Regions from separate parts of the Homo sapiens genome. Here region 2 is linked to region 1. The links come from fine-mapping of genetic effects on gene expression. A gene starts in region 1. The other region holds a variant in brackets. All regions are shown on one strand. Distances are from middle to middle. Region 1 holds the start of PVALEF (parvalbumin like EF-hand containing). Region 2 overlaps CEP131 (centrosomal protein 131).

Evidence for each region. PIP is the estimated chance that this variant, and not a neighbour inherited with it, causes the effect.
Region 2: its variant is fine-mapped to the expression of PVALEF in prefrontal cortex (GTEx, PIP 0.99). The same link has a PIP of 0.9 or more in cerebellum.

The regions. Positions count from the first base shown.
Region 1 is chr17:81,162,341-81,167,695 of GRCh38, reverse strand. It overlaps PVALEF (parvalbumin like EF-hand containing), which reads right to left and starts at 2,189. Exons shown (of 7, transcript NM_001354639.2): 1 at 1,949-2,189; 2 at 852-1,019. It overlaps AATK (apoptosis associated tyrosine kinase), which reads left to right and starts at 1,475. Exons shown (of 14, transcript NM_001080395.3): 1 at 1,475-1,758. The coding sequence starts at 1,704. RefSeq lists enhancers at 1,934-2,677, 2,678-3,421.
Region 2 is chr17:81,188,434-81,193,788 of GRCh38, reverse strand. It overlaps CEP131 (centrosomal protein 131), which reads left to right. Exons shown (of 26, transcript NM_014984.4): 19 at 946-1,053; 20 at 1,196-1,313; 21 at 1,397-1,471; 22 at 2,454-2,596; 23 at 2,705-2,882; 24 at 2,987-3,150; 25 at 3,814-3,874; 26 at 3,946-4,193. The coding sequence ends at 4,020. Among named protein-coding and RNA genes, the nearest start is that of AATK, 25 kb to the right of the region's middle. RefSeq lists an enhancer at 153-870. The variant G/A (reference allele first, on the strand shown) is at 3,101.

The DNA.
Region 1 (5,355 bases):
GTCTCCTACAGCCAGGGACCCCTAAGGTCTGAGGGCACAGGGTGGAGGCCCCTTGCTTTGCCTGTTAGGAGGAAACTTCCTACATGAGGGACCCCCTTAGGAAAAGAAGGGTGGGTCCTGGTGCCCATCTGCCCCGTGGCCCAAGCATCCTGTCCTGGTCTCTGCAGGTCCCTCTGCCGGGAACAGGCTCCTTTCTCTCCCTAAAGTCCTAAGAGCCCTGTTGGAGTGGGCGCCTCTCACCTGCTCCACAGCCCCCAACCCCAACTGGGCCTTGCCAAGGGGCTTAGCCATCTGGTCCCAGAATGAGTGAGTGAATGAATGAGTGAGTGAATGAATGAGTGAGTGAATGAATGAGTGGATGAGGGTGCATCAAACTCAACTGCAAGTCTCCAGGACACTTTTTTTGAGACAAGATCTTGTTGTCACCCGGGCTGGAGTGCAGTGGTGCCATCTTGGCTCACTGCGGCCTCTAACTCCCAGGCTCAAGTGATCCTCCCACCTCAGCCTCCCAAGTAGCTGAGACTACAGGTGAGCGCCACCATGCCTGGCTCATTTTTCTAATTTTTGTAGAGAAAGTGTCTTGCTATGTTGCCCAGGCTGGTCTGGAACCCCTGAGCACAAGCCACCCGCCTGCCCTGGCCTCCCAAAGTGCTGGGATTACAGGCATGAGCCACTGGGACCAGCTTCCACTGAACTTTAACTCTCCCGACTCCCACGGGGGCAGGCTGGGGGGACCCTGCCCCGCCCCAACCCTGCAAGGTGGCACTTTGGGCGGGGATGGGGGATCCTGGGAGAAACATAGGGGAAGGGATGGCCCCTCAGCGCCCAGGCCAACCTGCTGCCCTAAGCACCTGGTACAGTCCACGGCAGGTGGAGACTCAGCCAGGTTCTTCCTTCATGGCTGTCGCAGCACGGTACAGGAGCAGGCCTGTGTGCAAAGCCAGCCACCCCCACTCCACCAGCACAGGTGCCACCCAAAGGGCATGGGGTGGGGGGGCGGCTGCCAGCCGCCTCGAAACCTGCAAGTGAGGCGAGGGCCCCTGAGCACCAAGACCCGCCCTGGGTGTGCTCCCGGGTTCCCCCACCTGTCTCCCTGAACCTTTCCACCTAGGAGTACCCCCTCCCCCACCCCGGCGTTCCCTCCGTACCCACTCACGACTTACCATTCACGACTTCCGTTTCCCCCCCCCCCGCCAGCCTCCGTGCCCCCCTCAGCCCCAGGCCGCCGTGCTTCCCGCTCCGGACCATCCCCCCACTCCGTGCCATCCCCGCTCCGTGCACGGCCCCCCGTCCCCCCTCCTCCATGCCTCCCCTCCGTGTCCCCCCTCCAAGCCCCCTTCTGTGTCCCCCACTCCGTGCTCCCCTCTGTCTCCCCCTCCGTGTCCCCCTCTCCGTGCTCCCCCCATGCCACCCCGGCCGCGGAGGGCCCCCCCCTCCCCCGCGCCGCTCCGCGCGCGCTCCCGCCCGCGTTTTCGGACTGCACCAGCGGAGCCCCGCGGCGCCAGGGCCGGGCGGAGCGCCTCGTCTGTCGCCGCCGCCCCCACCGGTGCGGGCTCTGCGGCTGCGGCGGGGGGCGCGGGGCGCGGGGGCCGGCGCGCTCCGCACCTGCGGCGGCCGCTGGGTGATGCGGCGGCTCGGGCCGGGGCCGCGGGCGTCCTGAGCGCAGCGCCCTCCCGGGATGCCCGCCGGCCGCTGGCCCGGCCATGTCGTCGTCCTTCTTCAACCCCAGCTTCGCCTTCAGCTCGCACTTCGACCCCGGTGAGTCCCTGGCGGCCCGGCCTGCGCGCCGCTGCCTCCCTCCGCTGCGGACGTGATGCCCCTGGGCCCCACGGCTCCCGGTTTGCATGGAAATTAACCCTTTCCCCGCCCCGAGCCCAGCAGCAGAAGCAGCCGGACCCCCTGGCGGCCCCAGATCTCGGAGGGGCAGGCCCTGGGCCCCAGCACAAACCGGCCTCCGCCTGTGGGCTGGCGTCCCCCGCGTGGTCGTGACTCCGTGGCTGCCTCCAGGGCACAGGTAACTGGGGCACGGAGGGCCTGCGTGGGCCCCTGGTGTCCAGGAGAGTTGGTCTCAGACTAAGGGCCCTTGGGGGTGTGGGGGGTGTCAGCCAGCTGGGGTTCAGGCTTTCCATGGCCTCTCCTGGGTCCGGGGCCCTGGCGTGGGAGGCTTCTTCCCAGGCTGGGAGCGATTCTCAGAGCCCTGCCCAGCCACCAGCAGCCGGCGGGGGATGTGGGGGGAGCAGGGGCCAGTCCACATTACAGAGCCCAGTGGGCAGAGGCTCAGAAGAGAGGGGCCTTGGTGGGTGCCCAGATCCCCTGACAGTGGGGGCCCGAGGTGACGCTGTCAAGCTGGCTGCAGGGGACCTGAGGCCAGGCCTCTTACCCCGTATGGCCAGTGCACCGGGCAGGGCGAGATTACCCATGGCTGCCTGGCCTCCTGGCTGTGGTGGACAGCTGGGATAGGCAGAGGGGGCTGGGGACAGCTGGAAGCCCCATCTGTCACCAGGAAGCAGTGGGCTTTCTAAAACCTCTGCTTCTCCAGATCCGGCCCCTGCTTGGCCTGAGTGGGAGATAATCCCCCTGCCCTGTGCCATCCATGGCCCCAGGGCCAAGTCCCACCCACACGTCACTGGGGCTCTGGCACCAGGCTGAGCCAGCCCAAACAAAGCCTGTTTGCATGTGACGTGATCTCCTGTGTCTCCTTCCCTGGAGCAGGGCCCAGTGCACGCAGCCTGGCAGGGAGGCACGGGGGTCCCCGGGGCAGATCTCGGTCTGAAGGCATTTGCTCCCTGGAGGAAGGGAGCTGGTGGGAGGTCTGTCTGCTGGGCTTAGGGCTGTGGGTGTCACTTGCTCAGAAATGACTTCCTGTAGTGACCCCTGGGGCTCGGAAGTCCCTGTGGGGTGGGCAGGTGAAGGCTCAGAGCCCAACAGCCACGGCAACAGCTGTAATGTCTCCCCGGCCCAAGGGCAGGGGGTGGAGGAGGCTTGGGGCAGGTCCTCATCACATCTCCATGCCAGGCGTGGCCCACGGTGCTTGGTCCTTTCTGCCCCCAGAACAGAGAGGACCCTCGGCCCATACCCTGCCTCGGGGCCCAGCCTTGTCCTTGGCCATGAGAGGCCCTTTCCCCCGCCTTCGAGCAGCACCGGCTCTGCCCTTCTCTGGGTAAACAGCTGTGATCTGAATAATTCTAATGTGTCCGTTTAATGACTTAGAGGAAAAGAAGTTGTTGGAGGCAAGGGGCGTCTCTCCTCTGCAAGATGCTGGGCCAGAGCTGCAGGCACCTGCTGGGCTCTGGGGCCCACCTACCAGGAGGGGCTGCCCAAGGTGCTGGTGCTGGTGAGGAAGGAGACCCTCCTTCGGATTAAGGGGCTGGGTCTAGGCTCTGCACCAGCCCCCATGAGAGGGTTAGGGAGGAGAGAGGGGTCTCCTGCCCTCCCGCTAAACTTAGCCCAGCCTTCCAAGCCTGGCTGTCCTGTGCTGCAGTCCCTCTGCCTGGCCTTGCCTCTGTGAACCTCGGTTTTCCCATCTATGACATGGGCCGACAGTACCTGTGGCAGGCCCGGGTGGGCTCAGTGCTTGGTGAGCACTTGGCTGTCTGTGCTGGAGTGGTGGTGCTGGGACAGAGACCCCCAGGGCCCAAGCTTCCTACAGCATGTGGCTGGCTCCTTGCCATCCCCGAATTGGAGCGAGCTGGTTCCTTCTGAGGCTGCTTGTGTCTGTGGGGGGGCACCCAGAGGGGAGGGGCCCACGCTTGTGGCTCTGGCAGTTGGCTTGTGTGTCACTCAGCATCTGGGGCAGTGCTAGCACCTGACATGGGGGTCTCACCTCAGTTGCCAGGCCCTGCCCCGCTGCCGGGCCGGCTCCTTGTTCATCGCAGGAACTGGTGCCAGTCTCCATAGAGGTGACGGCAGTTGTGGTGGTACAGGGGGCAGAGACGCCCGATAGTGCAGGGCCTGAGAGTGGAGGCTGTGGGCACAGACTGTGGGCTGCCTGGGCCCCTGACCTTCCGCACCAGGCAGATGCGGGCAGGGCAGGGGGCACCCGGCCCAGGAGCCTGCTTGAGTGCCAGGAAGAGCCGCCTCCTCTGGAGCCCAGCTCTTCCCCCATCTCCCTGACACTCGGGAGCGTGGCTGGGGGATTTCTTGGCAGCTGCAGCCTTCCAGCCTCTGTGCTGTGTGGCCTCGGACTACTCACCCAGCCTCTCTGAGATCCGTTCTGCACATGTGAAATCTTGCTCTGGGGAGACTAGTGTGGGCATGGCGGCCAGGAAAAGCAGGGTGATGGGGGTGACACATGGGCAGGATGGCCGGGTCCAGGCTGGCAGGAAGGGGGTGGCATGGCCTTGAGCGAGCAGAGGTCACCCCTTCTACCTGAGTGCCCCAAGGGAGGGGGCTGGCCTTGTTGCTCACCCTCCCCAGCCTTCACCTTCCCTGGTGCGGCCTCAGGGCGTCATGATTTCTAGTCGTCCTGAGCCCTGGGGCCTGGAGCTGTCCTAGGCTGGAAGTGGGCATGGGGACACCGCCTCGCTCCGGCTTCTGGAGAGGCGCGCTCAGCCTGAGGGTGGGGGTCAAATGCTCTGCACAGTTAGGAGCAGGGGTTTGCCCTGGGGCCACCTCTGGTTTGCTGAGGGGCCCTTCTGTGACTGGCTCTCCATGCCTGTTTTGTCATCTGTAAGGTGGGAATGGCTGTGATGGCCAGGTCTGAAGGGACAGCAGTGGTGCACTGAGCCAAGGGTGGGTACCTGGGCAGTGCCTACCATGGCTGATCCCTGACGCAGAGGTGTCACTGTTGACCAGTGGGCAGGGCTTGGAGTTTGTGGAAGTTCTCGGAACACGTGGCAGCCTGGATTTGCCACCCCCCAACCCCCGCCTCTCCCCTGTCCCTCAGCTCACGCCCTGTCTCCTGCCCAAGGTCTCTCCCTGTGTCTGACCTGAACCAGGCGCCATGGGGGGTTCCTGGGAGAAGTGCCTGTGCCTGGCCACGGTGCTCGCTCTATCAGCATTCATGTGAACCGGACACCTGGCACAGGGCTGGGCAGGCTGGGCCTCAGGATGAGCCTATTGATGGGGAGAGGGCAGAGGAGGCAGCGAGCCCCGGGCCAGGCATGGCCTCAGTGGCAGGGGCAGGGCTGGACTCAGGGGCTCAAGGGGCTGAGCAGGAGGCCATGGGCCTGGGTGGTCCCCGGGAGTCCTCCCCTTGGAAGGTGCCCCACAGCTGACACTGCCCGGGCACCAGGTGTGGAGTCTGTTTGAAGGCAGCTGCTGCTTCAGTCTCCCAGACCACTCAGGCTCAGGCAGCAAGCACCTGCCCTGGGAGGAGTTACCTGTCCTCCTCTCGCCCCCGGGGTCTCAGAGGAT
Region 2 (5,355 bases), 26 kb before region 1:
GCCCTGGAGTGGCCCTTGGGGGCCCAGCCTCAGCCGGGCCAGTGTCCTCGGGCTTGTGTCTGCAGTTCATGCCCGCCGAGGTCTGCAGGTTCTGCATGGGTGCACGGGTGTTTTCCCAGGGTCAGGGCTGGGAACCCCCACCAGACATCCACTCTTTCACAACTGGCCCCAGAGCAGCAACCCGTGGATAGGCGGCCTCGAGGCCCCTCCAGCTCTGACCTTGGGGCCCAGGGACGGTCTCTCTCATTCACTCCCTTGGCCTGGGGTCTGAGGGGTGACTGCTGCTCTTGCGTCCTGAGCCCTGGGGGCTGGGGACGTGCCCAGTGGTGGTCAGGATCTGCGGGCCACAGGGGGCAGTGGCAGCCCCTCCTGCACTGTCTGCGCCACCAGGACAGCCTGGAAGCCACCCTCTCCTATCCACCCTGTTGCCTGTCGTGGCTGGTCCTCCCCAGATGCAGCTTGGCTGGTCCCCCAGTCTCTCCTCGAAGGTGGGGTCAGGACGAGGCCCTGGCGCGAGCTTGCTCAGGTCACGGAGCCAGGCACCTGGCACCCTCAGGCCGGAGGCAGGGGAGGTGGATAAGGCCCCACGAGGCACCTGCCTCCCGCCCTCCATGCCCGTGGGGCAATGCTGAACAGGGTGAGGCCGGCACACGGGCTGAGGGAAAAGGGGGCCTGGACGCGGCTCCACAGCCACTTCCCAAAGTGCCACGAGGGCCTGGAGCTCAGGGAATTGCTGCGCTTGGCTGATGGGCAAGTTCCTCGTGGCCTTGCCTGCCCCCGGGCGGTGGCTTTGAGGGGCCTTGACTGCCGAGGGGGAGGGGCAGGGCCCCGGAGGGCTGCTCTCCAGCTGTGAGTCAGGCCTGTGGTCGGCCCGTGCCCCTGCGGTGGGTGGGTCCTGGGACCGCCCGTCCCGGCCCCCGAGAGCCAGTCCTGACCGTCCCGCAGGTTCCAGCAGCACCTGGAGCAGGAGCAGTGGGCGCTGCAGCAGCAACGGCAGCGGCTGTACAGTGAGGTGGCTGAGGAGAGGGAGCGGCTGGGCCAGCAGGCAGCCAGGTGCCGCCCGGGGGCACCACGCCCTCTCCCAGGGACCCCTCGCTGGCTGACCCCTCCCCCCCGCCCCCTCACCCGCTGACCTCTCCCATCCCTGACTCCTTACTCGATGACCCCTCACCTGCTGACTCCTCCCTGGCCGCAGGCAGCGGGCGGAGCTGGAAGAGCTGAGGCAGCAGCTGGAGGAGAGCAGCTCTGCACTGACCCGAGCCCTGAGGGCTGAGTTTGAGAAGGGCAGGGAGGAGCAGGAGCGCCGGCACCAGGTCTACCACCGGAGGGCTGTGCTGGGCCTGGCCAGGGGGCTGCACGGGGTGGGACTGACTGGCCTCTTATGTCCGCCCCCCAGATGGAGCTGAATACCCTGAAGCAGCAGCTGGAGCTGGAGAGGCAGGCGTGGGAGGCCGGCCGCACCAGGAAGGAGGTGGGGGCCTGGGCACCCAGGTGGGCAGGGGTTGGGGGCTGCCCTGCGTGGGCAGGAGTTGGGGGCTGCCCCAGGTGGGTTTTGCTGCTGCTGTGGCATCCTGGGGGCTCGTTTCTGGGAGTCACATCTGGCTGCTTGGGGTTGTTGTCTGAACTGACGCTGAGTGTGTTGCTTTCAGCCCATCTTTTGCGTGGGCTCTGGAAGGATCAAGGGTGCCTGGAGCGCATCCTCTGTGGTCCGAGAACAGGCGTTGCCCCTCTCGCTAGGGGCTGCTACACCCCTGCGCCCCACGACCAGCCCACTGACACTCAGATGTACCGAGAGGGACACGCACAACAGGGGCTCCCCCCTTAGCCTCTGGGGCCTTCTGTGGGGGGTGGACTCTGCCACGGTGACAGTCCCACACACATTCTCACCACCCATGCCCGCCGCGAGGCTACAGTCCAGGCTGACCGTGCCCGTCACCTGGTTTCACACCCTGGTGGGCTGGGATGTCACCGAGCAGCCAGGCAGGCTTTGGCAGTGGATGCCTCTGGGCCCAGTAGCATGCTCCCGACGTAGCCCTGTGGGGCCCAGGGCTGGACAGATGAAACTCTGGGAGTTTTCAGAGGCTTCCAGGAGGCTGCCAGCTTAGGCTCTGAATGCCTGGGCTTGGGGGCCCAGGCCCCGCCCTCAGCAACACGCAAGTCCAACTTTCCCATCCCATCTGGTAGCAGAAGGTGGCCTCAGGTTGTCATGGGCTGTGGGTCTCTGAGGGAGGGGACCGTGGGCTGTGCATCATGACGATCTCTGGTACGCCTATGCCCACACTGGGTCCTGACAACAGGACGTAGCGCACCCCTGGACAGGGGTCTGGAGAGGGGGAAGGCCCCTTGCTCCCCTGTGGCTCAGAGCCTGGAGCCCCCCAGGACCCCCTGAGGCTGGCCCTGGCCCCGCGGGCCGGCTCCGGGTGGCAACCCCCAGGCAGCGCATGTCCCCCCAGGAGGCGTGGCTGCTGAACCGGGAACAGGAGCTGAGGGAAGAAATCCGGAAAGGCCGGGACAAGGAGATTGAGCTGGTCATTCACCGGCTGGAGGCCGACATGGCGCTGGCCAAGGAGGAGAGTGAGAAGGCTGCCGAGAGCCGGTAAGGACCCGCCATGGCTGGGTCACCAGCTGGGGAGGCCCACGAGCTGAGGCGCAAGGACCCGTGTGTGACTGGGCTGGAGTGACCCTGCCCTCCCCCCACCTCCAGCATCAAGCGCTTACGGGACAAGTACGAGGCCGAGCTCTCCGAGCTGGAGCAGTCGGAGCGGAAGCTTCAGGAGCGGTGCTCGGAGCTGAAGGGCCAGCTTGGGGAGGCCGAGGGCGAGAATCTGCGTCTGCAGGGCCTTGTGCGGCAGAAGGAGCGGGCGCTGGAGGATGCGCAGGCGGTGAGTGGGCGGGTGTCAGGTGGGCAGTGGGCACCCACAGGCCCCTCCTGCATGCACGCAGCCAGTCGCTGGCAGCCGGCTCACTGCCTTCTGTGCCCACCCAGGTGAACGAGCAGCTTTCTAGCGAGCGCAGCAACCTGGCCCAGGTGATCCGCCAGGAGTTCGAGGACCGGCTGGCAGCCTCTGAGGAGGAGACGCGGCAGGCCAAGGCCGAGCTG[G/A]CCACGCTGCAGGCCCGCCAGCAGCTGGAGCTGGAGGAGGTGCACCGGAGGTGGGCGGCGGGGGCTGCAGGGCTGGAGACGGAGGCGGGGCAGGGGAGCGGGCAGGACCTCTGCAGCTCCAAGCCCCAGGAGGCTGTGGCTGAGGAAGGCCAGGAGATGCAGAGACAGGGCCCTGTAGACAGAGGCTGGTGTGGGTTCCATGTTTGGGGCCCAGGAGACCTAGATCTGTTTTCCTCCCTGGTGCTTAGTCTAGGGTGTCGGCCATCCCTGTTGGGGCACCCGAGTGGGTCGGGTCTGGGCCTGGCGAGTTCTCCAGGGAGTCAGCTCCCGGGGCCCTGGGCTGGGTGGACAGGCGCTGAAAGAGCTGGGGCACTGTAAGGTTCCCAGCGAGCTCCCTCCACGGGGGTCCTGCATCCTTCCTGTGCCATCTGCTGCCACAGGCTGAGAGGTGGGTGTGGGCGAGGTGTCCCACCCCATCTGGGTACCAGGCCTCCCCAGGTGTGGCCAGGGTCATACTCCAGTGGCCTGTGTTGGGTCCTGACTCACAGCAGGTGGGTTGCCTGGACAGCTGTCTGGGCCAGCCACAGGAGTCGTGGTCAGCAGGGCTGGGACCAGGCTGACCAGGCGGCTGCCCCGTGCACCCTGTGCACTGCAGGCCACTCTGGGGACATGGGGCGGGGGCCACACTGAAGCCTACCATGTACTACCCACAGGGTGAAGACAGCCCTCGCGAGGAAGGAGGAGGCCGTGAGCAGCCTCCGGACACAACATGAGGTGAGTCCCTGTGGCCAGCCCTGCTGGACCTCGGGGCTGGGAGCAGGCCTGACCCTGTGGGTGTGCTGCAGGCTGCGGTGAAGCGGGCCGACCACCTGGAGGAGCTGCTGGAGCAGCACAGGAGGCCCACGCCAAGTACCAAGTGACCAGGGATGCCGGGAACACTGTCGAAGAACGGAAGGCAGAGGACAGAGGCTGGACGTGGGCCCAGAGGCCCACAGGGACGCCCACCTGCCCCCCACAGAGGCTGGTGGTTGAGATGCCCACGGCTAAGCACCTGTGGCTGCATTTTAACAGTAAAGGAGGCCGTTGTTTTCAGCGCCTTGAGTGACTGCCTTGTCTTCTCTCCTGGGCTAGAGGCTGCCCAAGACCCCCAGAGCAGCCAGGCGTGGGTTTGGCTCTCTTCCTCCCACTCCCCTCCGCAGCCTGAGCAGGCTGACCAGGAAATCACGAAGCTTGGCCATCAGCCCCCCAGCTAGCAGCCCTCAACACTCAGCCAGCAGCCCCCAGCACTCAGCCAGCAGCCCCCCTGCACTCAGCCCTCAGCTCCCCAGCATTCAACCCAACCCCCAAGTTCCTGTTCCCTGCCTTGCCCTGGACCCTGGAAGTCCCAAGCACAGGGAATTCCCTACCCCGTTCCTGGCCAGGCGCAGGAGGAACTCAGCAGAACTCACCCCCTGGGAGGAGCTCCGAGGGCCCCGCCGTGGCCCTGCAGGTGCTGGAAGCCCATGGCTGCCAGCGTGCTCCTATGGCTGGAGAGACTCCAGAGGGACAGGAAGCCCTACCCTCCCCGCTGTCAAGGTGTGACAGTCTGGAGCTCTCAAGAAATGGGGATGGACAGGGCCCACCCATGAGGATGGGGGCACTGGGGAAGGTCCCAGGCAGGAGAGGGTACCACTGGCCCAGAGCATCTCTTCACACCCAGCCTGGTTCTCAGCCCAGGTCAGCTTGGCCTGGTCAGTTCAGAACCTGCCCCAAATCCTCAGGGGGGCAGCCCTCCCTCCACCTCCGTCTACACTGACCAGGAAGTGAGTGTTGGATGCCATCTCACTGGGATGGGAGGTCCAAAGCCGCGCCTGAACGCTTGGTGGCAGACAAGGGTCTCCAAGCAGGCCGCACTATCCTGGGACCGGGCTTTGGGGTCGCTCAGGCTGCCACACCACAGTGTCCCGGCGTCTGCACCGGGTAGACCCATCGCCCCCGAGCCTGTCTTCCTACCTGCAGCATGGCTAGGACCTCCCTGGCCGCAGCAGCTGCCTGGGGTCCTGGGAAGCCCCCTGTGGAACAGAGGTGCTGCTGGCTACCCAGGCCTGCTCCAACACCCTGCCTGAGGCTTGCTTTCCCCCAGGAGGGGCTGGCCAGGCTTAGGTCCTCGTGCCCAGCGCCATCCTGCTGGCCAAGTCACTGCCCTGGACACAAGGCATGTCCTGGTCCTTACGTCTTTATCCTTCCAGGTGGCATCGTCCCTGGTCCCCTTGCGG